Linked DNA regions of Homo sapiens: all the other regions are linked to region 1. The links come from fine-mapping of genetic effects on gene expression. A gene starts in region 1. Each other region holds a variant in brackets. All regions are shown on one strand. Distances are between the middles of the regions.

What was found. PIP is the estimated chance that this variant, and not a neighbour inherited with it, causes the effect.
Region 2: its variant is the best candidate, but not a certain one, in a credible set for the expression of SPOCK2 in whole blood (TOPMed, PIP 0.87).
Region 3: its variant is the best candidate, but not a certain one, in a credible set for the expression of SPOCK2 in whole blood (INTERVAL, PIP 0.72).

The regions. Positions count from the first base shown.
Region 1 is chr10:72,084,598-72,092,773 of GRCh38, reverse strand. SPOCK2 (SPARC (osteonectin), cwcv and kazal like domains proteoglycan 2) reads left to right here and starts at 4,223. Exons shown (of 11, transcript NM_001244950.2): 1 at 4,223-4,634. The coding sequence starts at 4,446.
Region 2 is chr10:72,057,528-72,065,703 of GRCh38, reverse strand. SPOCK2 (SPARC (osteonectin), cwcv and kazal like domains proteoglycan 2) reads left to right here. Exons shown (of 11, transcript NM_001244950.2): 9 at 1,464-1,526; 10 at 2,542-2,679; 11 at 2,799-6,670. The coding sequence ends at 2,944. Among named protein-coding and RNA genes, the nearest start is that of SPOCK2, 27 kb to the left of the region's middle. The variant C/A (reference allele first, on the strand shown) is at 3,219.
Region 3 is chr10:72,028,670-72,036,845 of GRCh38, reverse strand. It overlaps LOC124902448 (a long non-coding RNA gene), which reads right to left. Exons shown (of 2, transcript XR_007062187.1): 2 at 7,927-8,176. Among named protein-coding and RNA genes, the nearest start is that of SPOCK2, 56 kb to the left of the region's middle. The variant GT/T (reference allele first, on the strand shown) is at 3,261.

The sequences.
Region 1 (8,176 bases):
TGCTTCTACTGTGCTCTTACTGGCTATTTTCATTTATACCTGCTGCTGAGTCATGACCACCCAAAATCTACATGTTGAAGCTCTAACTCCCAGTAACTCAGAATGTGACTGTTTATTTGGGGATTGGGCTTTTAGTGGGGTGATTAGGTTAAAGTGAGGCTGTTAGGGTCGGCCCTAATGCAATCTGTCTGGTGTCTTTATAAGAAGAGGGAATTTGGACACACAGAGACACCAGACTAGTGTGTGCACAGAGGAAACGAAGACACAGCAAGAAGGCGGCCACCCTGCAGGCCATGAAGAGAGGGCTCAGGAGAAACCAGACCCACCAACAGTTTGATCTTGAACTCTGAGCCTCCAGAACTGTGAGAAAATAATCGTCTGTTGTTGAAGCCACCCAGTCTGTGGTACTTTGTTACGGCAGCCCCAGCAATGGATACACGTGCTGTAATGCAGAAGCTTATGCCAGACTCTGTCTTCTTCTGACCAGACACTAAAGAGATTTGTAAAACTGTAAAACAGTGCCACTCTCTTACTAATTTGGGGGAGCGGTAGAGACGGTTGTTTTTCATAAAATATTCTGTTAATATGAAATGGGTACATTTATTATTTTAAAATAAATTTAAATTCTTAATTTGATTTTCAAATACAGTAAATATCACTATATATATAACTCACAGAAACAAAAGTTCTTTGGGGTCCTCAATAATTTTTTAGTGTTAAGGGCTCCTGACGCCAGAAAGTTTGAGAATGGCTATACTATACTATACTTCCAAATGGGATCCTATTATATATGATCTTATATAACGAGCTTTTCTCACCCAGCAATACATAGTGGATCACATTGGTCTTTAATAGATACAGATCTACATCATTATTTGTAATGTCTGCACAATAGTCTGTTACAGGTATGTTTTATCCTTTAATTAGGTGGTTCCTGGCTAATGGACATTGAATTGGTTTCCAGGATGGGCTATTATGAACAATTCTGGATCTTTGTGTGTTTATCTTTTTGTGCTTGTGGGGTCATCTAGAAATGGAATTAAATGGATTTTAAGATACATTCAGGCCAGGCACGGTGGCTCATGCTGGTAATTCCAGCACTTTGGGAGGCCAATGCGGATGGATCACATGAGATCAGTTTGAGACCAGCCAGACCAACATGGAGAAACCCCATCTCTACTAAAAATACAAAATTAGCCGGGTGTGTTGGTGCGTTCCTGTAATCCCAGCTACTCGGGAGGCTGAGGCAGGAGATTTGCTTTTGAACCTGGGAGGCAGAGGTTGCAGTAAGCTGAGATCGCGCCATTGCACTCCAGCCTGGGCAAGAGCGAAACTCGATGTATTCAATTTGGGTTTCTTATGAGGAAACTAAGGTTTCTCTTCTCCATTTTAGAATTGCTAAATATTAAGTGCAAACAGAAAAATGTGTAAAATATATGTACCACTTAATACATATACCTAGCAGCAGCTCCTCATGTTTGGGGCTATTGTCTTGAAAAGGCTAACCTGCCAGTAATTCTTTCAAACATGAGGAAAACCAAGCTGGGTGTGGTGGCTTATGCTTGTAATCCCAGCACTTTGGGAGGCTGAGGAGGGAGGATCACCTGAAGCCAGGAGTTCAAGACCAGCTTGGCCAACATGGTGAAACCCCATTTCTACTAAAAATACAAAAATTAGCTGAGCATGGGGACGGGCACCTGTAATCCCAGGTACTCGGGAGGCTGAGGCAGGAGAATCCCTTAAACTTGGGAGGCGGAGGTTGCAATGAGCCGAGATCGCACCACTGCTCTCCAGCCTGGGCGACAGAGTGAGACTCCATCTCAAAAAAAAAAAAAAAAAAAATTGAAAAACCTTTTCTTTTTCTTCTTTTCTGTTTTCTTTTGAGAAAGAGTCTCGCTCTGTTTCTCCAGCTGGAGTGCAGTGGCACGATGCTAGCCCAGTGTAGCCTTAATTCCGAGGCTCAAGCAGTCCTCTCACCTCAGCCTCCGAGTAGCTGGGACCACAGGCATGTGCAACGTGGCTCATTTTTTAAATTTTGTATAGAGATAGGGTCTCGCTATGTTGCCCACGATGGTCTGGAACTCCTAGGCTCAAGCCATCCTCCTGCCTCTTGGCCTCCTAAAGTGCTGGGATTACAGGTGTGAGTCAGCACACCTGGCCCTTTTTTTCTTCTTTGTAAACTAAAACTATTGGCCATTTCCTACAAGTTTTACACCAGTCATCTGGAAATTTGGGTTCTTCTTCCTAAATAGCATTACTATTGGCTTCACTAATGGGACTGGAATGTTGTTGATTAGCTTTCGACACAGGACTAGTATTGACCCAGCTTGAAGGTGCTACAGAAGGCAAGTCCCACTGGAGAAGCTACCTGGGACTGTGGGAGCCATTTTGACCCTCAGAGTCTGGAGACAGCTATTGTCATATTGATGGGCATCTTGACAGCACCTTTCCAAACTCTTTATTCAGCAACTTTGGTAACTCTGGAAGCCCCTAAGATAGCACAGGAATGGGAGAGCTGTGGTATCTGGTACCTATCTCCTAAGTGCCTTAGAGATATATAGCTAGCTTTGCTAAAAACGAAAACAGAAACAAAAAAAAAAAAAACAACAAAAAACTAGGATTGTAGGATTGAGATGGTGGAAAAGATGGCAAATTTTGATGAATCTTCAGAACTATGGGACACCGTAGCCTTCTCTTCCCAACCAGAGGAAAGACTAACTTTTTAAAAAAATGCCCATTATGCCCACTTAGTATGTAATTTTGCTTGCACTTTACAGCAGTTTTAATGATGGTATTACCATTAGTTTTAGATAGAAAATAGGTAATTGCTCAAGAATCCAGCCAGTAAGTGGGATTCTGTCCTCTAGTCTCCACGACAGCAAGCCGTGCTCTCTCACTGTACAGCGCCAGGACACACCCAGGAAGAATGCTTTATTACTGTGAGATGAAGACGTCAATGGCCAGGGCCTCACTGCAGCACCACCACTAAATCCAACAGCAAAGGAAACAAGAAAACATGGAAAGGGAGCTATTGTTTTCTGTTTTCCCAACGAGACTCCGGCCTGAGCCACTGAGGCATTCAGAGTTCCCAGATAGGCCAGATTCAGGGTGACAAGGAACCTTGTAAGCTATGTTTTTTCCTACTGATTAAGATTATGTTTTTTAAAGCATTTTAAATTTTTATTTTATTTTTAGATCACAGCAGCTAAGTCTTTTTATAAAAACACAATCTAGGGCTTGGGTCCCAAAAGTTCACTAGGTTTTGTCCCATCAGATGATGTTTCCTCTTTAATGTATTTGTAATGTAAACCTGTCCCCATTTCTGCTGTGCTCTTGGGACTGTGGCCAGCCTCCAGCCTTCCCCGCTGGTATGTCAACATTTAAATCTACAGCCAATAAGGAGGGTCGCAGTTTCAACAAAACCCGAAACACCTCAAACAAAACCAGCACCCCACCCCAGCCCCCCACTCCCCGGCTTCCCCAGTGGCTTATTCAAACTAACTTGAAGTCAAAAAACCATAAGCAAATATGCCTTTTCCAAATTTGCAGCCTCCAAGGCAGATGAAATGGTCAGACATTTGCCTTTTAGGGTTGTCCTGGGAAGAGCTGACAAAACGGGTGACAGCCCCTAAACAGCTGCCTGGGGAGGAGGACATCTGCCTCTGTTTCACCAGCCACTCAGTGCTCAGGCCTTGCCTTGCGCAACGCGGTGCCGCTGGGGAGCAATGGTTCTGAGCAGCCAGTTGTTATACGGCTTTTGTCTTAACGAAGCCACCCATTACGGTAGAGCCATAACTCGCAGGAAGCCAGCTGTCAGGGCTGTGGCGCAGGCCCCTCTGGGTGGGAGGCAAGGGGAGAAAAACAGTGTCTGGCCAAATTCCCTTTCCGACACCTGAGCCTGGCTGGCTTTGTAACCGGAGAGTTTTGTGCCCTCTCCCCCATCCCATCTTCCCCGGGGAGATCCTGGGGCCCTTCTTGCTCTCCATCCTTTGAGGGAGCTCAGGGACATTTCGGGATTCTGGATTTCTTGGTCTGCAACTCCCTGTGTGCCAGGCGGGGCTGGGCCCCGCTGCGGCTGGCTGGCGTTTGGCGCTCTCATCGAGGGAGCGCTTCGCTTTGAAATCTACCCACTCCTTTTTTTTTTTTTTTTTTAAACCAGGTATGATGATGTCAAACGTGATGCTGATGCTACAGTTACAGCCCCTGCTGGCGCAGCCTCTCTGATTCTCTCTCCCTCTCCGCGTCCAGTGCTGGGCTTTTTCAGACAAGTGCATCTCCTAACCAGGTCACATTTCAGCCGCGACCCACTCTCCGCCAGTCACCGGAGGCAGACCGCGGGAGGAGAGCTGAGGACAGCCGCGTGCGCTTCGCCAGCAGCGGGGTGGGAGGAAGGACATTAAAATACTGCAGAAGTCAAGACCCCCCCAGGTCGAACCCAGACCACGATGCGCGCCCCGGGCTGCGGGCGGCTGGTGCTGCCGCTGCTGCTCCTGGCCGCGGCAGCCCTGGCCGAAGGCGACGCCAAGGGGCTCAAGGAGGGCGAGACCCCCGGCAATTTCATGGAGGACGAGCAATGGCTGTCGTCCATCTCGCAGTACAGCGGCAAGATCAAGCACTGGAACCGCTTCCGAGACGTGAGTCCGCAGGGCTGCCAAGGCAGAGACCCGGGGTTGCGGGTTCGGGGATTGAGCTCCGGGGTCTGCGGGAGCGGCCGCCGCACGTCGCAGCCCGAGGCTCCGCAGCCTGGCCGGCTAATTACACGGAAAGTAAACAGTACTGGGGGTCACAGCCCAGCGCCCCTCCCCTGTCCCTGCGGCCCGGGCCGGCGGCCCTGGGACCCCCCAGCCCCGGGACCCCCAGCTCCACACCTGCCCGACGCTCCGGGGTCGCGCGCTCCGGGGTCTCCCCTGCGGGCCGGGAGTGGGAAGGGGTGCGGGGCCGGGGGGACCCGGACCCCGGCTGCCGCTGGACCCCGACCCGGTCCCCAGCTGCGTTGTGCGAGCCGCCCCCGGGCCTGCCCCAGCCGCTGGGATGCTGCAGGCTGCACATACGGGGCACTGCAGCACCGGCAGGTCTGGGTGGGGCCGGCAGTGAGGGTGGCATCGGCTCGCGCGGTGCCCTCTGTTCCCACCGTGGGCTTTGCGGGAGGGGGACAGCATGGGACGGGAGTGTGACCGGGGCTCTGGGTCTGGGGTCCCAGCAGCCTTCTAGGCGAGATGGTGGAAGGCGTGTCCGTACGGGGGTGGGCTGGGGTCCCCGTGCAGAAGGGCGCGCGAGGACCCAGGCTGGTTTTCCCGGACCAACATTTCAGGGGGGAATCCAGCCTGGAGCGAGGGGAGCAGCTCGGAGCCAGAGGAAGGCTCCCGGCCCGGTGGGCTTGAGAAGCCGGGGAGAGTCCAGAAGCTGGGTTTGGGGGCCCCCGGCGGGCGCCGCCCGAACCCCGGCGTAACCTTGGGCCGAACTCCGCGGGGTGGGGGCGGGGGGGTAGCTGCGGCACTTTTGTTTACCGGCACCTGTGGATCAGAGGGGAAGTCGCAGGCGGCGGCCCGGCGGGGCTGGCTCCTTCCTCTCGGCCGGGCCGGGTTGGGGGCTGGGGAAGCAGGGGTGAGGCAGGGCGGGCGGAGGGTGTGGCTGGACCCCGAGATCGTTGGGGGTGCTGTGGGGGATGGGCCCGGATGCGCCAGAGGCGACGCCGGCTGCTCCTGGCGACCTGGTGCTCACCGCGGCCCTGACCCCAGAAAACCTCTTCTAGGACCCTGGCCCTTACTCCTCCTTCCCCAGGTTCCCTCGTCCGACCCACCCAGTACAACGCAGGCCACACCATGACCTCTCCCGTTTTCTCCTTAAACTGCGTGCATCCACAAGTTCCTTGGAAATTTGTTTAAAACACACATGCTTCATAGGCTATCCAGCCAAGTGATGGGAAGAGGCAGAGATTTGGATCTTTTTGTTACCGTCAGACAAGTGACTGTTTCTCCCCAAAGTCAAACTGGCAGGTTGTAATTCACAGAGGACAGCAGGAACCACGGGCAGCCAGGTCTCCAGGCTGAGTGGCCGGGCCCCGCGATGGGCTGCTGATCTCCGCCTTCGCCCCACATGCGACCTGTCCAGCCGCAGGAGCCTGGAGCCCCGCGAGGCCTTCCCGAAGCACCTGCAGGCCCAGCGCAGATGAGCCGCAGTCTCCTGCCGCTTCCTGGGCAGCAGCCCGGCCACAGCAGCGAGGGGGCGGCAGCAGGCCGGCCCATCCGGAATCCATGTGTCACTGGCCTAGGCCTCCCTCCGACTCGCTGGCTGTTTGATCTGCCAAAATGGGACCAGTGAAGGTCAGAGGGAAAAGAAATGCTTAATCAGAACAGGAAAGGTTTAAAATAAAAGATTCCTCCCCACCTCCCTTCTTCCACCTGCTTCCAATAGCCAGCTCCGTGGGTGAGAATAAATGACTTACTGCTTGACCCCATGGCACTGGGCTACCCACCTGTCTCTCTGTATTGGTGCCAACCACTTCCCCCTTCCTCTCATGCTCATCAGAAGAAAGGCACTAGATTTGAAAGTCTTCAGGACTTGCACATGTAAGATTCATGGGAAAGCTTTAGGTGTGTGTTGATTTTGGTAGCCTCAGGCTTTTGTAGGACAGATGTCCTCTAAAACCCCATTTAAGGTAGTCCTGGCTGCAGGAGGACAGGGTCAGGGAGAGAAGTAGGACAAAGAAGGCTGGGCAAGAGGGCCTGGCCCTGGGGATCTGTTGACAGCCTCTGCAGAAAGGCAGGAAGGAGGCTGCTAGCTCAGAGCCACTGCATTGCATAACTCTAGGGGTGCCACAATAGAAATGGTGCCCCCTGAAGTTGTGCAGTGCCCAGACAGTACACAGGGTCCCCACCAGCACTACAAACATATCCCTCTTCTGCCAGAAGAAGCCCTACTTCCTGCCTAAGGGCTGAAGGCACTCTAACTGGGCCCAGTAGCAACGGGCTTTATATTTCCATTAGGCCAGCTCTTTGGAAAATATGCTCCTTGGTTCCTCAAAGGAGAGAGGGGAATTTCGTTTGAACCCCTTAAGGGGTTACAAGGTTGAACTGGGACCTTGTTCATAACCCCAAAATGGTACAGGGCCCCCCTATTTGTCCTAGTAGGGTGGAGGCAAGCAGGACGAGTGGGATACTCTTGGGGAACAGGATTGGGAGGGAAATGCCTCATTCACATGGTGTGGACAGAACTGAAGGGGGAACTTGAGGGAATCAGGTTGAAAGGGTCAGGAGAATGAAGAAGAGCATGAAAACTTGGGGAGTTGCTCCACTTTGGAATTGGCCAGAGCTGGTTGAGAGGGAGCGCAGCTTAGCATCTTTCTCTGAGCACTAGGATTATAGGGAAGGCAGGATTTACCAGTTGAGTAATCCTCCCCTCCAGTGGGCTGAGGGCTCTTACAGCCTGTGCCTGGGTCGATCTCTTCTAATGCTGGGTGCCCGGCTGCCAGGGAGGAGGGGATTCTGGCAGAAGACGGGGGAGATTGTGGACTCCGCCTGGCTCCCTGGCCTACAGATCTAGCTGTACCCTGCCCTGGGCAGTCCTGGGCTTTTCCAAGCCCTGCTCTTCGATGCTCCTACCTCCCAATTCACTCCCTGCACAACTGGGTGGAATTTAATGCAGGTCTTTGGAACAAAGCATCTAGGGCCTAGAGGGATGGACACTTGGAGGAGACAGGTCCATTATACAGCATTCTTCAGGGCAGGCTCCACAGAGCTTGGCTACGAAGAGCTGACTGTTCTCTTTCTTCTTGGCTCTTCTCTACTTTGTACTCCACTTCTATGAAGTTTTCATTATATTTATGAGTGTCTAACACAGTGCTTGGCACCCAGGAGGCGCACAGTTCATATAAGTTGAATCCCTGATGCAGTGAGCACTCACATCTGCCATTAAATTAAATCAAATTAAAGCACTTTAATTTGAGTGGTCTCTTGTGCCTCTCAAGGATCTGGGAGATAGTTATTGTTACTTTACAGCCTACCATTTTATGGTTGTAGAAACTGAGGCACAGAGAAGTAATTTACCCAAAGGTCAAATAGCTAGTAAGTAGCAGAGCTGAGATTTGAATCCAAGTCATCTCACTTAATTTTGCTTTTCAGGGAATTCTAGGCCTCACCCTTAGCGAAAGTGAGAAGGAGGGGTCTACCCTGAAGAG
Region 2 (8,176 bases), 27 kb after region 1:
GGCCACTCCATCCATTCTGTACTTTCTTGGGCAGGAGGCCGGGAACTGTCCTCATTTTACAACCAGGCAGGCTTCCAGCTTGGAGAGGTGGGGACTTCCCAAGGTCGCAGACAAGTTAGAGGCTGGCTGCCGGTTACAGTCATGCGTCACTTGACGAGGGGGATACATTCTGAGAAATGCATCATTAGGTGATTTTGTCACTGTGCAAGCATCATAGGAGTACTTACACAGACCTTGGTGGTGCGGCCTCCTGTGCACCTGGCCCATTGCTCCCAGGTTACAACCTGTGCAGCATGTTATGTGCTGAATACTGCAGGCAGTTGTAACACAATGGTAAGCATTTGTGCATCTAAACATAGCTAAACATAGACCGGGCGCGGTGGCTCACGCCTGTAATCCCAGCACTTTGGGAGGCCGAGGTGGGTGGATCACCTGAGGTCAGGAGTTTGAGACCAGCCTGACCAACATGGTGAAATCCTGTCTCTACTAAAAATACAAAAATTAGCCAGGCATGGTGGCAGGTGCCTGTAATCTCAGCTACTTGGGAGGCTGAGGCAGGAGAATCACTTGAACCCGGGAGGCAGAGGTTGCAGTGAGCCAAGATCGTGCCGTTGCACTCCAGCCTGGGCGACGAGAGCAAAAATTTATTTTATTTATCTCAAAAAATAAAATAAGGCTGGGCGCGGTGGCTCATGCCTGTAATCCCAGCACTTTGCGGGGCTGAGGCGGGCAGATTATGAGGTCAGGAGATCAAGACCATCCTGGCTAACAGGGTGAAACCCCGTCTCTACTAAAAATACAAAAAATTAGCCAGGCGTGGTGGCGGGCGCCTGTAGTCCCAGCTGCTCGGGAGGCTGAGGCAGGAGAATGGCGTGAACCCGGGAGGCAGAGCTTGCAGTGAGCCGAGATCGCGCCAATGCACTCCAGCCTGGGTGACAGAGCAAGACTCCGTCTCAAAAAAATAAATAAATAAAAAATAAAAAAATAAACATAACTAAGCATAGAAAAGGTACAGTAAAAATAGTGTTGTAATCTTATGGGGCCACCGTCCATTGTTGACTGAAGTGTTGTTGTGTAGCGCGTGGCTGTATTTTCAGGCCTGGGAGTTCTCTCTAACATTCCCTCTAGCATTACGTTCCCCTGGGCTCTCTCATACTTGGGTGTCTGTGTGTTCACCCCACCTCCTCTTCTGAATCCTGTTACTCCTCTCATGGGTCCCTAGGACTTCTTGGGGACCTCAGGTCATCCACAGCTGTGGAATGAGCTCCCCTAAATAGAGAGTGAGCGTTTTCGTGCCATAGAACCCTTGTACTTCCCACCCCTGCTGTGGGGTGACCCCGTGTCAGAAACGGGGTGTTTTCATCTTGCAGAGCCCCTGCCTGGGTCTCTAAGCCTTGAAGGGCTCAGTGCATCCCCCCAGCACCAGGGGACAGTCCCATCAGAGGCTGCTTCTCTCCCCACAGAGCCCCCCTGCCTGGCAGAGCTGGAGCGCATCCAGATCCAGGAGGCCGCCAAGAAGAAGCCAGGTGAGGGGCCAGACCAGGCTCTCAGAGGAGGAGGTGGGGACGGCTTCCTGGGTTTGTCTGAGACCCAGGGCCTCCAGCCTTGGGCCTCATGGCAGACATGGAGCCCAGAGGAGGCCCTGGCCTAGGAAGACAGAAGAGGGTTGCCCCCTTCCTGTGTCTATCCTTGTGGTGGGGCAGGGACTCCCAATCTGCCCCGGGAAAAGTGTGTTTTAGGCACTAATTTTATGCCCATCCATGCTGGAGCTAGAGTTTGGGATACAGAAGGATCCTGGAACCCTCCACTGAGTTCAGTTTCCTTCAGCAAGGGTGTGACTAATGTTTTAGTGAGGCCACTCCCTGAGTGACACTCACTCACATGCTCCATAAACACCTGGGGGCCGGCCCCAGAGATACAACAGCAATAGACCCAGCCCAACTCTGAGCGGATGGCAAGAAGGATGCACTCCCTGGCCTCATAACCCTTTAGCTCGGGCCAGTCCGGAAACACACAACACACAAATGGACACACTAAAAAGACAGAACTAGCAGTGTGACCTGTACACAGGCGCCTGGGAGCTTCAGCTGGGGAGCCTGCAGGAAAGCAAGTGGGCCCCGGAGGCAGGTCGGACTCAGAGTGGCTGGGAGGAGAAGGCTGGGCCTTCCTAGCAGGGGACAGCCAGGCCGGCGGAACTGTGGGAGGATGGAGAGTGTCAAACCTGGTGAAGTCAGACTGGCTGTCCTAGAAGACTTGGGCCATGGAGTCAGGGAAACTGATGGGGCGGCTGGGAGCTAGCACAGGGGCCTGAGCAGTGGTTCAAGGAAGCGGGTTTCCTCATCTCCAGCGAGTAGAGCCGAAAGAATTGCTGGCTGGTGTCCAGCTCTCAGCATCTGGGCCTGTTGGGGGGTCAGCACCCGGTCTGGCTGGGCTCTGGGGGTGTATAGACTTCTGCTCATGCATGAGGACCTGAGGTCACCTCTCTGAGGGGCCCACAGCCTGGGCCCCTGCTCTGACCCTGCCTGGCACTGTCTCATTCAGGCATCTTCATCCCGAGCTGCGACGAGGATGGCTACTACCGGAAGATGCAGTGTGACCAGAGCAGCGGTGACTGCTGGTGTGTGGACCAGCTGGGCCTGGAGCTGACTGGCACGCGCACGCATGGGAGCCCCGACTGCGGTACGGGCTGGGCAGCTCAGGGCCTGCTGGGGGCCCAGGCCTGGGGGCCCTTGTCGTGGGATGCTGGGGGGTGCGTGCCAGAAGCTCCCTCACCCCCTGTTGGCTTGATCCCCTCACAGATGACATCGTGGGCTTCTCGGGGGACTTTGGAAGCGGTGTCGGCTGGGAGGATGAGGAGGAGAAGGAGACGGAGGAAGCAGGCGAGGAGGCCGAGGAGGAGGAGGGCGAGGCAGGCGAGGCTGACGACGGGGGCTACATCTGGTAGACGCCCTCAGGAGCCGGCTGCCGGGGGGGACTCAACAGCAGAGCTCTGAGCAGCAGCAGGCAACTTCGAGAACGGATCCAGAAATGCAGTCAGAAGGACCCTGCTCCACCTGGGGGGACTGGGAGTGTGAGTGTGCATGGCATGTGTGTGGCACAGATGGCTGGGACGGGTGACAGTGTGAGTGCATGTGTGCATGCATGTGTGTATGTGTGTGTGTGTGTGGCATGCGCTGACAAATGTGTCCTTGATCCACACTGCTCCTGGCAGAGTGAGT[C/A]ACCCAAAGGCCCCTTCGGCCTCCTTGTAGCTGTTTTCTTTCCTTTTGTTGTTGGTTTTAAAATACATTCACACACAAATACAAATTGACAGGTCAAAATCCATGAAATGAGATCCCCCAGCCGTGTCCTCCAGCCCAGCCCTGACCCCTTGGTTTCTACCCTGGCTCCCCTTGGTTTCTACCCTGGCTCAACCGACCCCTGTCTGCCCTTCTCCCTCTTGCTTCTGAGGTCAAGCTCTGGCCTGCGAGCCTGTCCCCATTGCAAAGGGGAGGGAGGGGCAGGGAGCTGTCTACCAGCTGAGGTCCTCCCAAAACTGGGCCGATGTGGTGTGACATCCCCACCAGCCTCAGATGAGACGGGCCAGGACGCCCAGCCACAGCAAGCCCTGTCCCTTTGCCGGATCCCCAAACACTAGAGAAGCTCTCCTAACCCAAGGCGGAGAATGAAGGTGGTGGCGGCAGAGGAGGAGGGCAGCAGCTGAGAGGCCAGGGACAGGGTGCCTCGCCAAGCTGTCTGAGGTCTGTCCCAGGTGGCCCAGGTGGTGCAGGTAGAACAGGGTGAGGAGAGGGGGTCGGCTCAGCAGGAGGAGGCTGTGGCTGCAGAGCCTGGGGGAGCTTTTAGGTGTTGAGATGGGGCAGCTCTGAATCCTAGACCCTGGAATAGCCTGTCCCTTTTCTCTGGGTCTCGTGGTGGAGCCATGATCTGGGCTGCTCTCTTGGGGACACTGGGTGGTGGTTACACAGTTGACCTCTGCCTGGCTCCCCCTTGGTGCAACTCCTGCCTCCATCCCCCTTGCTGGGGTCCCCTCATCCACTTGAGGGCGCCTGAGGGCCAGGAGCAGCAGGCAAGGAGCCTGGGTCTAGGCTAAGGGGGTGTGTGCCCACCTCCTCCCTGACCCTTAACACTCCTGTCCTGCCCAGACCAACAGAGAGAGCTGTCCCTGAGACCCCGGAGAGAAGCAGCTGCCGAAAGCTGCAGCCTTTCCGCACTCTGAGACCATGATCTTCCTCCTGCCAGGGGAGAGCCACCCACAGGCCATGTCCAGCCCCACTTCCCTCAGCCCCCAGGGCTTCCTTCTGGCCCCTCTGAGGATTCCCTAGGGCTGCCCCGCAGAGGGGCTTCCCCAAGCTCTGTTTTGAAGCCTGCAATGTGGAAAAGTGAGAAGTCAGAGGGAACAGGACAGGTGCAGCCGGGCTCTGAGGCCACACCTCACACCTCGCTGTTCCCCAACATCCCCTGAGCAGTGTGAGCTCATCTCACCAGATGAGAAGAGGCCCTGTGCATTTCTTTTGTTTGTTTGTTGCTGTTTTCCCCCACCCATCCAGTTCTCCTCAGCAAAGCAAATTCCTTAACACCTTTGGTGGAGAATTTCTTACCCAGACTTGGGGCTGTGATGCCCTTCAGTGCGTGGTGAGTGCAGCGTGTGTGCGTGTGCCTGTGTGTGAACCTGGGGGCCATCCTGGTGGCCTGGGAGCGTGAGGAGAGGCCCCCTGTGTGCTGGGTGAGTGGTGGGTGTGGGGTCAATGCAGTGAGGCTCTCTGGGTGAGGCTCCCAACCTGGCAGTCCCCAGCCTCCCAGCATCTGTGAGCGTCTGTTGGACTTTACAGAAGAGCCTCATCCTGTCTGCCCCTCACTCTGCCCTGGAATCAACATCTTCCGAGTCCTTCTTGGGGGAAATAGCAGAGCCCCACTTAACTCCATAAACTGCTTCCCATTCCGCAGCCCAGTTCTGATTGTTGAGGTGTCGCGTCGTTCCAGGTCCCCCAGTCCCCTCTTTCTCCTGTCCTCTCTCTGTCCTTCACCTCCCCACTCCAGCCCCGGCTCAGTTCAGGGAAATGCTGTTCCACATCAGCCCTCTGCTCTCTGAGGCAGCCGCGCCTCTGACTCGGAGCTACTTGAAACTTCTGCTCTTGCTAGGATTGGAGTCTACCTATCTCTTCCATTTGTCCCAGCTGGAGTTCTGGAACTTTCCTCCTCGGGGTGGGGGTGGGGGTTGTTAAGGATGCTGGGGGGCCTGGGGAAGGAAGGAGTTCAGAGGAAGGGTGTCCCCTGTCCTCTTGATGTCACCCTCCGCTCCTGGGACACGTGCTCTCTCTGTCTCTGGGTCTTCTGGCTGTGCACGTTTGTGTGTCCTTGTAAATATGTTTTAGGAAGAAAGCAAAAGGGACTGAACTAGCCTCTGGTAGGATTGCAGGGGTCCAGCCTTGCCTGTTTCCGAAGCCCCCACACTGCCTTTCGCCCTACTGAGACTGGTCCCCTCAAAAGGTAGACAAAACAGCAGCTCCCTGTGGAGCTGAAGGGCGGCCTCAAAGTGGCTTTTTGTTAGACAAGGTTAAGGTTTCCTCATGAGCAAGGTTGCAGATCGGTCCTTCCTCAGCTCCTTGATTTGTGACCTTGACCAAGGGGCCTGCCACCCAGCCCCTCCAGTGCCCTCTCCTCGATGCCTCGCTCCTTCCTGCCCCCACTCCCCTGGCTTAGGCAGGTAGGGGAATTAGGGCCATGCTGGAAGAAGCTTAACCATGTGTTCAAAGAACGGTTTCTTGCTTGCTTGGTCCTGGAACTCCCCTTGGCTGCCCCAGGCCTCCTTGGCCCATGGGTGCTGGGGGAGGTGGATGTCAGATCTGGTAGGTTGCAGCAGAGAAAATAAATGTGCCTTGAGAGACCACTCAGAGAGGGTCCAAGGGTGATGGAGAAGGAAGCATGGCCTGGGAGCTTGGAAGGGAGGGGTGGTGGGTGGCGGCATCTTGACTGCCCCCTGTTGTCCCACACGTGGGGGGTGGTCACCCCCCTTCACTCCAGCCCGCCTGCCTTCAGCCTTCCATGAGCTTCACCTGCTTCCAACTTCACTTTGGAGGGGGTGGGGTCCGTTGGCATCAACACGGGGACCCTCTGCTTCACCAAAGCCCGAGCCCTCAGCCCCTGGGGAGAACAAATGGCTGAGCTTTGATACCTGGGGTCGTCGAGAGGCTGCGGGCTGGCGGCAGTCCCAGGGGAGAGACACCACAGAAGGAGACCCAGACATCCCGAGGAAGTTCCCAGCAGAGCAAACTGCTTTCCAGCCTGAAGCCTGCTTAAACTGTGTGATGTGCAATAACTGAGCTTAGAGTTAGGAATTGTGTTCAAGTGCTTGGATTTCCGTCTGTAGATTTAACTGCTGAAATTGTATCTCTCAGTAATTTTAGATGTCTTTTAAAAAATTGAAAAACAAAGTGTTAGACTGTGTGCGTGTGCGTTGATGGGCACTCAAGAGTCCCGTGAGTCATCCAGCCCTGCCTTTCCCCTGCGCCCCCATCCTCTCACGTCCCGCCCCGCCTCCACTTGGGGACCCTGCCTCGTGTCGTCTTTATCTGCCTATTACTCAGCCTAAGGAAACAAGTACACTCCACACATGCATAAAGGAAATCAAATGTTATTTTTAAGAAAATGGAAAATAAAAACTTTATAAACACCATCTGCTGGCAATACTCTGATTATTCTTACCCTTGGTATTATTTTTCACGAAAACAGCATTTATGGCTGAGCGTGGTGGCTCACACCTATAATCCCAGCACTTTGGGAGGCTGAGGCAGGACAATCCCTTGAGCCCAGGAGTTTGAGACTGGCCTAGGCAACATAGTGAGACCCCGTATCTATCAAAACAAAAAAATTAGGCTGAGAAGGAGGGGCAGTGGGTGAGGCTAAGGATTGCTTGAGCCTAGGAGGTTGAGGCTGCAGTGAGCTATGGTCGTGCCACTGCATTCCAGCCTGGGCAACAGAGGGAGACTATCTCTTAAAAGATAAAAATACAGTACAGTACAATTCAGTGGCATTTAGTACGTTCGCAGTGTCATACAGCCGTCACCACAATCCAACTCCAGAGCATTTTCATCCAGGGTATGAGCTTTTCAAAGACTTCAACCACCTCTTAGCAAACGGCTTGTGAGAAAGGTAAAACCAGTTGAGACAGCGCCGCTAGTGGAGTATGTATCGGGCCCTTACATGCTTGTTAGCATTATGATTCTAATTTTTAAATTTTTTTTTGAGACAGAGTCTCGCTTTGTCGCCCAGGCTGGAGTGCAGTGGCACGATTTTGGCTCACTGCCACCCCACCTCCCAGGTTCAAGTGATTATCCTGCCTCAGTCTCCCAAGTAGCTGGGACTACAGGCACCCGCCACCATGCCTGACTAATTTTGTATTTTAAGTAGAGACGGGGTTTCACCATGTTGGCCAGGCTGGTCTCGAACTCCTGACCTCTAGTGATCCTCCCGTGCTGGCCTCCCAAAGTGCTGGGATTACAGGCGTGAGCCACCATGCCCGGCCCATGATTCTATTTTTTTATGTATTTTTATTTTTTATTATTTTTTTTGAGACAGTCTTGCTCTGTTGCTCAGGCTGGAATGCAGTGGTGCAGTCTCGGCTCACTGCAACCTCCGTCTCCCCACTTCAAGCGATTCTCCTGCCTCAGCTGCCCAAGTAGCTGGGACTACAGGTGTGTGCCACCATACCCGGCTAATTTCTGTATTTTTAGTAGAGACAGGGTTTCACTCTGTTGGCCAGGCTGATCTGCCCACCTTGGCCTCCCAAAGTCCTGGGATTACAAGCATGAGCCACCACGCCTGGCCAGTGTGGCAGAAGAATACCTAAATGTCTTACTTTTATTTCTGGGATTATCTGAGCTGGGGGACTGTCGTCATTATTCTGTGACTTTTCTTCTCTTGGGCCTTGCCAACCCCTCACTAGACGTGTCTTTTAACAAATTGTTTGCGGTGTGGAGGGGGATGGAATCTGGGCACAGGAGCTCTAATCTCTAGCCCTGGAGCTTGCTAACTGTGGCCTTGGGCCAGGATCTGCTGGATGGATCACCTGTGGTAACCAGCCCCCGTGCTTTCCAAACAGCGAAAGCCCCCGGTGCCAGCCTGCAGCCAGGGCACGCTCTGCCCGTCTGGCTGGAACGACTCCTTAGGAAGGGAGCTTTTC
Region 3 (8,176 bases), 56 kb after region 1:
GTGCCACTGCACTCCAGCCTGAGCCACAGAGTGAGACTCTGCCTCAAAAACAAAAAAACAAAACAAAACAAAAAATTCCTGGACACCTTTCTCTGTCAGCCCACCTAGCTTCTGACTGCTGCATACCTTTCATAATAGGACTCTCCAGCCATGTGTCTGCCCCTCCCCTCGTGGTGGACCTTTGGTTCTTTCCATTTCTCATCAGTTCAAAAATGCGCATTGCGTGGCCAGGCACGGTGGCTCACGCCTGTCATCCCAGCGCTTTGGGAGGCCGAGGCGGGTGGATCACCTGAAATTAGGAGTTCAAGACCAGCCTGGACAACATGGTGAAACCCCATCCCTACTGAAAAAACAAAAATTAGCCAGGCGTGGTGGCTTGCGCCTGTAATCCCAGCTACTTGGGAGGTTGAGGCATGAGAATCGCTTGAACCTGGGAGGCAGAGGTTGCAGTCAGCCAAGATTGCACCACTGCACCCCAGCCTGGGCCACAGAGCAAGATTCTGTCTCAAAAAAAAAAAAAAAAAAAAAGAAAGAAAAGAAATGCACATTGTGTGTGTTGGAAAAGCCTCCCTGGATGCACAGGGCAGGGCTTCCCCGGGGCAGAAGCGAAGACTTCACTTGCACGCTACAGCCTTGGAAATGGAGGCCCGAGGGGCTGTAATGTCCCAAGGTGAGGTCACACCAGGCGTCTCAGCCCCTCCTTTCAGGCCCTAGAGCCTGGTGTCCCCCTCCTTCCTCTCCACTGGGAGTCTCTGCCCTGAAAGAGGAGGGGAGGGACTAGGAGATCAGGCTGGGGAAAGGAGGGAAGGGGTGACTAGGTAACAGGGGGCTTCTCCCTGTGATGCTAGCAGACCCAGTGGGGACAACTGGGGAGGCAGCACAGAGACCCCTGAGGAGCTACCACACTGGAGGGGAAATACAGCCACCAAGGGCCACTGGGCCCCAGGTCTCCTGAGAACCCTCTCCTGGGTGTCCTGCTTTGGAAAAAGGCTCTGTCCAGAGTGACACTGACTCAGAAGCTATCAGGTAGGGGCCCAGACCCTTTGAGCTCAGCCTAGAACCCTGCATCCGCCAGCCCTAGGTCCTCTCAGGCTGCTGCCCCGTCACATGTTCTTACAGTACAGATACTGCACAGCAGATCCGTCAGGTCAGCCAACGAACGCTCAGGGCCGGAGGAAGAGGCCAGCTGAGCCTGTGCAGCCCACCCCTTTTCACAGCAGACCAGGTGACAGAAACGCCAACTCGGGTCCCCGAGAGCTCCTGCCATGCTTTGTGCTGGGCCTGCTGGGGACATCCACGGAAGGCACAGCTAGCTGAGGTTAAACTGGCAGGAGGATTTAGAAACTTCTAGGTGACATCACACAATAACAAGCAGAACAGACCTAACTAAAGGTTAACTAACCAACCACTGACTGGGAGCTTGAAACATGCCACATACTGTATCGAGCTGGCTCCCATCTCTCCTGCACTGGGAGGTCAGTGTTATGACAATCCCCCTTCTACAGACCAGGAAACAGGCTCGGAAGGGCACAGAACTTAGTCCAGTCCTGCAGGGGATAAGTAACGTGCCTGGGACTCAAACCCAGGCCTGTCTGACACTGACCTTCTGCTACTAAATGGTTTATAACCTTTGGAGTATCCTGGACCTCTATGAGATTTTTTTTTTTTTTTGAGACAGAGTCTCACTATGTTACCCAGGCGGAGTGCAGTGGTGCGATCACAGCTCACTGCAACCTCTGCCTCCCCGGCTCAAGTGATTCTGAGGCACAAGAGTACAGCTCTGGAGTAGCTGGGTTTACAGGCATGTGCCACCACACAGGGCTAATTTTTGTATTTTTAGAAGAGATGGGGTCTTGTCATGTTGGCCAGGCTGGTCTCAAACTCCTGACCTCAAGTGATCCGCCCACCTCAGCCTCCCAGAGGGCTGAGATTATGGGTGTTAGCCACTGTGCTGCCACCCTTTGAGATTCTAATGGAAGCCTGGAGCCCTTTAACCAGAAAAGTGCCTTGGTGTAAACACAACATGTGTGTGCAGGGCCTGCTTCCTGGGCATATGGCCTGGGCAGTTGCACAGGACCCCAAATTCACAAAAGCCCCATTTTTGGTTTAATGCTCTGCTGTTGCCATCATGAAATGCTTAATGCTTTTGTACAAGGGGTGCCACATTTTCATTTTGCCCCGGGCCCTGCAACTTCTGTAGTCTGTCCTGCATATGCGACACTGACACACACATGTCCACATGCACCACCACTTTGCAAATGACTTTAGGTGTGCAGGAATCCTATAGGCCATTATAGACTCAGGAGATACCCTTTCGCTTTGCCCTGCACCCTGGCAAGCTGTGCACACGTGCATGTGTGTGTGGAGGAAACTGTCAGGTGGATCTGAGTGTGGGCAGGGAGCTGGGCCAGCAAGCAGGGGAGGGGGCGGCAAGGCCAGCATCGACTTCCACACAGACCGTGACAGCAACTCCTACGCCTCCGGGAGAGGGAACCAGTCCTGGTAATAAATAGCCCATATCCTCAATCCATGTCCTTAAAAATCTGTCCCCTTCTTGGACAGGACAAGGGGCCTTTGTCAGGCATGGTGGCCTCAGAATAAACACAGGAAGGCGACCAGTGGCGGATGATCGGGCTGCTGTCTGGGGCAGAGTTTTCTAAGTCAGGCTTGGCATTTCACTCAGAATGCTCCTGCCTGTGGCCAACTGGAGGGATCCCTGTGCCCACGCCTGAAAGCAAGAATGTCCAGGCCGGGCAACGGGGCACAGAGATGGTTACACAAGCCTCTGAGGACAGAGAGAGCACCCTGAGCCTCTGCAGTCGGGAAGCGGCAGCTGGTGTGGGAAGGGGCTTTATACAATCTTCCCTTGATCTGTGTGATCTTGGGCAAGTGGCTTAATGTCTCCATGACTCAGTTTCCTATCTGTAAAATGCAGGTGATCATGATACCTACCCCAGGATTTTTGTGAATGTTGAATTATTGTCTAATGTCCTTCCAACAAAGCACAATAAATAATAGCTGTATTTATCATTATCATTATTATTATTTGAAACTAGGTTAGAGGACCAGGCTTCAACATAGCTGTGCTTTTAGTTTCACTGTTTGTTCATGTTATTTTTTAAAATCAGTTAAAGCCCCATGTGAGAGATCATATGCGGGGAGTGGGGAGGATTCACCAACAAAGGTTGGAGAATTAATACGGGGATGAAAAGCACCCAGGGAGAGACACAGGGCTGGTGTGTGTGTGTGTGGGGGGGGGG[GT/T]CATCCCATGACACAAGAGTCTGGAGTGCCTGGGAGGGAACGGGCCAGAGTCTAAGGCTAGGCTCTCTTCAGGGGAAAGGTTTGGAAAAGGAGCATTTCTTTTCTTTCCTTTTTCTTTTTATTATTATTTTTTTGAGACAGGTCTGTCATCCAGGCTGGAGTGCAGTGGCACGATCACAGATCACTGCATCCTCGCCCTTCTGGGCTCAAGCGATCCTCCTGCCTCAGCCTCCTGGGTACCTGGGACTACAGGTTCATGCCACCACTCCCAGCTAATACATTTTTTAATTTCTTTGTAGAAATGGGGTCTTGCTATGTTGCTAGGGCTGGTCTCAAACTCCTGGGCTCCAACTATCCTTCTACTTTGACCTCCCAAAGTGCCAATGTTACAGGAAAGGGGTCCCCACCCCATGTCCCAAGAGAGGGTTCTTGGATCTCGTGCAAGAAAGAATTCAGGGCAAGTCTGCGGTGCAGTGAAAGCAGGTTTATTAAGAAAGTAAAGGAATAAAAGAATGGCTACTCCATAGACAGAGCAGCCCTGAGAACTGCTGTTTGCCCATTTTTATGGTTATTTATTGATGATATGCTAAAAAAAAAAGGGGTGGATTATTCATGCCTCCCCTTTTTAGACCATATAGGGTAACTTCCTGATGTTGCCATGGCATCTGTAAACTGTCATGGCGCTGGTGGGAGTGTAGCAGTGAGGATGACCAGAGGTCACTCTCGTCACCATCTTGGTTTTGGTAGGATTTAGTGGCTTCTTTACTGCAAGCTGTTTCATCAGCTAGGTCTTTATGACCAGCATTTTGTGCTGACCTCCTGTCTCATCCTGTGACTTAGAATGTCTTAACTATCCGGAAATGCAGCCCAGTGGGTTTCAGCCTCATTTTACCCAGCTTCTATTCAAGATGGAGCTGCTCTGGTTCACATGCCTCTGACACTGGAATTACAGGTGTGAGTCACCTTGCTGGCCTCTTTTCCCTTTAGTAACAGCCAAGGGGCTGTTTCTGTGTCTTCACATGTGACAGATTCACGTGTGACACATCACTGGGCTCCGGGCTTGCGCCCAGCCTCGTCTTTCGGCCCAGTCACAGGAATAAGGTGCTCCGGGGGTTGTGAGCAGCCTCCTGGCACAGAGCAGGACAGGGTGTTGGGGGGCCAGGGAGGCTGGCAGTGGGGACTGGAAGGAGGGTCCCATGCTTTACCCCCCCACACACCCAGGGCTAAGAAGAGTGCTGCCCTGGAGTCCTGGGGCCTGAGAGGAGGGGGATTTAGTCATCACTGTTCACCCTCCCCCAGTATTCCAGAGGAATTGCAGCCATCTCTGTGGACAAGGCAGCTTGTTGTCTGTGAGCACTTTATGATTTTGAAATTCATCCCTGCCATAATTATAAATTAACATTTGGAGGGCTTTCTACATGCCAAGCTCTTTTCTAAGCCCTCCTGTCCGCCTTTTTTTGGAGTCAAGGTACCACTCTGTTGCCCAGGCTGGAGTGCAGTGGCTACATCTCAGCTCACTGCAGCCTCGATGTTCTGGGCTCAAGTGATCCTCCCGATTCAGCCTCCTAAGTAGCTGGGACTACAGGCATATGCCACCACGCCGGGCTAATTTTTAAATTTTCCATAGAAATGGGATCTCGCTAGGTTGCCCAGGTTAGTCTCCAGCTCCTGTCCTCAAATGATCCTCCTGCCTCGGCCTCCCAAAGTGCTGGGATTACAGGTGCGAGCTGCTGCATCCGGCCTCTTTTTAAGCTCTGTCTGCATTATCTCATTCAAATCTCACAACATTCACAACGTTCAGGGCTGAGAAAACTGAGGCTGTGAAAGGGACAATCACAAGCCCCAGGTTGCCCAGCCAGGGAAGCACTGTGAGCCGGGACGGGAACTCAGCTCAGGGGAACGTCAAAACTGTGTTCTTAACAACAGTCAGCCCAAACATTGGGTCCCTAAGCCCATGGCTTCAAGCTGGCCCTTCTCTGTGGGACAGTAGCAGCCCTCCCATCTGCTGATGTTTCTCTCTACCAGCCCCTCAGCATCTGGACAAGGCAGCTGACCCCTTCCACGTGCCCACATACCTTGGTAGCAGAGGGACCTCTCAGCATTTTTACTGGCTTTTCAGATTAAAAAAAAAGTTAGCCAGGTGTGGTGGTGGGCACCTCTATTTCCAGCTGCTTGGGAGGCTGACGCCCGAGAATTGCTTGAACTCGGGAGGCGGAGGCTGCAATGAGCCGAGATTGCGCCACTACACTTCAGCCTGGGCGACAGAGTGAGACTCCATCACAAAAAACCCCCAAAACAAAAAAAACAAAAACAAAAAAACTGGGAGAAGAAGGAAATGGGGAGGAGTTGAGCGGAGGCTCAGGAGAGTCAGGCAAATGAACCACAAGAAGCTGGGAGAGGGGCTGATCTTTCCATCTCCTGTGAAGGCAGCCGTGACATCCTCCACTGGAAGGATGAGTACCTGGGGCTGGAAGGGGTTGCACAACTTGCTCAAAGCCACCAGCCTTGTTCCTGACAACCTGACACCCTCACAGACCCACCATTGTCCCCCTGCCCAGAGTTCCAGCACTGCGTGGGGTGAGGCGGGAGGTGAGGCAGTGTTTGCAACAGCTCAAGGCCGCAGTCCAGGATGACCCTGCCTCCCCTTAAGCTGCCTGCCCGAGAGAACAAACACAAGGCTGCCGCCAGAACTGTTTGTTCCAGCCAAGCCCCGAAGATAGGGCCCCTGCTCCCACTCTCTGTAGGAAGATAGGAGCCTCACTCCCATGGCGCCGGTTAGCATTGGACCAAGCTCCTTCTCCCGGCTTTTTGTAATGTATCACTTTGTCCCATCCATCCTAATACACACACACACACACACACACACACACACACACACTCACAGGAGGACTGGTCAGGGTTCCCTGCACATGACCCTCATATTTTGTAGGGGAAACTGGGATTCATTTCGGATCATCCACTCTTTCCTCCCTCCTAAGACCATGTTCCTCATATTCCGCCACCTCAGACGAGGTGGGGCTCAGTCTTTGTTCAAGCCGTATTGCTTCAGCCTCATAACTTCAAGACCTTGAGCAAGTTACTTTACACCTCCAAGCCCTGGTTTCCTCATCTGCAAAGTGGGAATAATAAAATAATCTAGTTTGCAGAGTTGCTGAGAGATTGTTTTATTTTTGTTTAGTTTCTGTTTTGTTTTGCTTTTTTTGAGAAGGAGTCCCGCTCTGTTGCACAGGCTGGAATACAATGACGCAATCTCGGCTCACTGCAACCTCTGCCTCCCGGGTTCAAGTGATTCTCCTGCCTCAGCCTCCCGAGTAGCTGGGATTACAGGTGAGCACCACCAGGTTGGGCTAATTTTTGTATTTTAGTAGAGACGGGGTTTCACCATGTTGGCCAGGCTGAACTCCTGACCTTAGGTGATCCGCCCACCTCAGCCTCCCAAAGTGCTGGGATTACAGACGTGAGCCACCACGCCTGGCCAAGATTGTTTTACGTCAACAGCGAAACAGTATCTGGTACAGAGTAGGTGTTAAACAAATAATTGCTATTGTTATTTTGTTATTATCTGGTCCTCACCTCTATCCTCAAAAATAGCTCCAGTTGACTCAGTTATTCCTCTTTTATAAATCACTACCAAAACCAACACTTATCAAAACACCACTCTGTATCCCATAAATATATACAATTATTATATGTCAATTGAAAATAAAAGGGAAAAAAACCAATACAAACAAATAAAAAACACCCAGGTGTGTTTCAGCATCTCTCGTCTCCTTGGGGCACTAACTCCTTGCCACACTTCACCTGCATGAGAGCTGAGTAAGCTTCTGGAGCTTTGGAGAAAGTCTGGGGTCAGGAAATTGGGAGATGTTACTGGCACCTGAGAGGGGGAAGCTGTGAGTGGGGACAGGAGAGACTGCCCAGCTGCAGCTCAAGTCCAGAGTGGTTCAAAGGGCATGGCTGGGGGACAGAAAGCGTATACTCCCTTGCCTCCTGTACTAGTGCAGGAACTGTGAAATAGGCATTCAAATATGCAACTGGCAGGAATGTCATTTGTACAACCATTTCAGAACATTGGTTGGTAGGCTGGGATAGTGGCTCAGGCCTGTAATCTCAGTACTTTGGGAGGTTCAGGTGGGAGGACTGCTTGAGCCCAGGAGTTAGAGACCAGCCTGGGCAACATAGGGAGACCCCATGTCTATTATTTTTTAAAAACAAAAACAACAACAAAAAGAACATTAGTTGGCAGCATGAATTGAGAGATACTAAAATGTAGATTTTTGTTGTTGTTGTTTTGAGACAGAGTCTCACTGTGTCGCCCAGGGTGGAGTGCAGTGGCGCGATCTCGGCTCATTGCAGCCTCTGCCTCCTGGGTTTAAGTGATTCTCATGTCTCAGCTTCCCAAGTAGCTGGGATTACAGGCATTTACCATCACACCGGGCTAATTTTTGTATTATTAGTAGAGACGGGGTTTCACCATGTTGGCCATGCTGGTCTCGAACTCCTGACTTCAGGTGATCCACCCGCCTTGGCCTCCCAAAGTGCTGGGATCACAGGCGTGAGCCACCACACCCAGCCTAGATATTCTTTGATGCTAAAATTCTGTTAACAGAAATGTATCCTAGGAAGATAATAGAGTACGAGAAAAAAAAACCCCAGAGATGCAGATTGAGTTTTTTACATAAAGAGGTTCATGTTATGCTATTTAGAATAACAACAATTTGAAAGTAAATCTAATGCCCCAAATTAATGAGTAGTGGCACGACGTGTGACACCTCTGATTTAGCGAGGATTAGATTCACTCTTGAGTAATAGAGCACCCAAAATTACAGCAACATTATGAAACACAAACTTCACACACATTCCAGAGATAGGCTGTCCAAGGCTAGCGTGGTGCCTCCATAATTATCAAGGACTC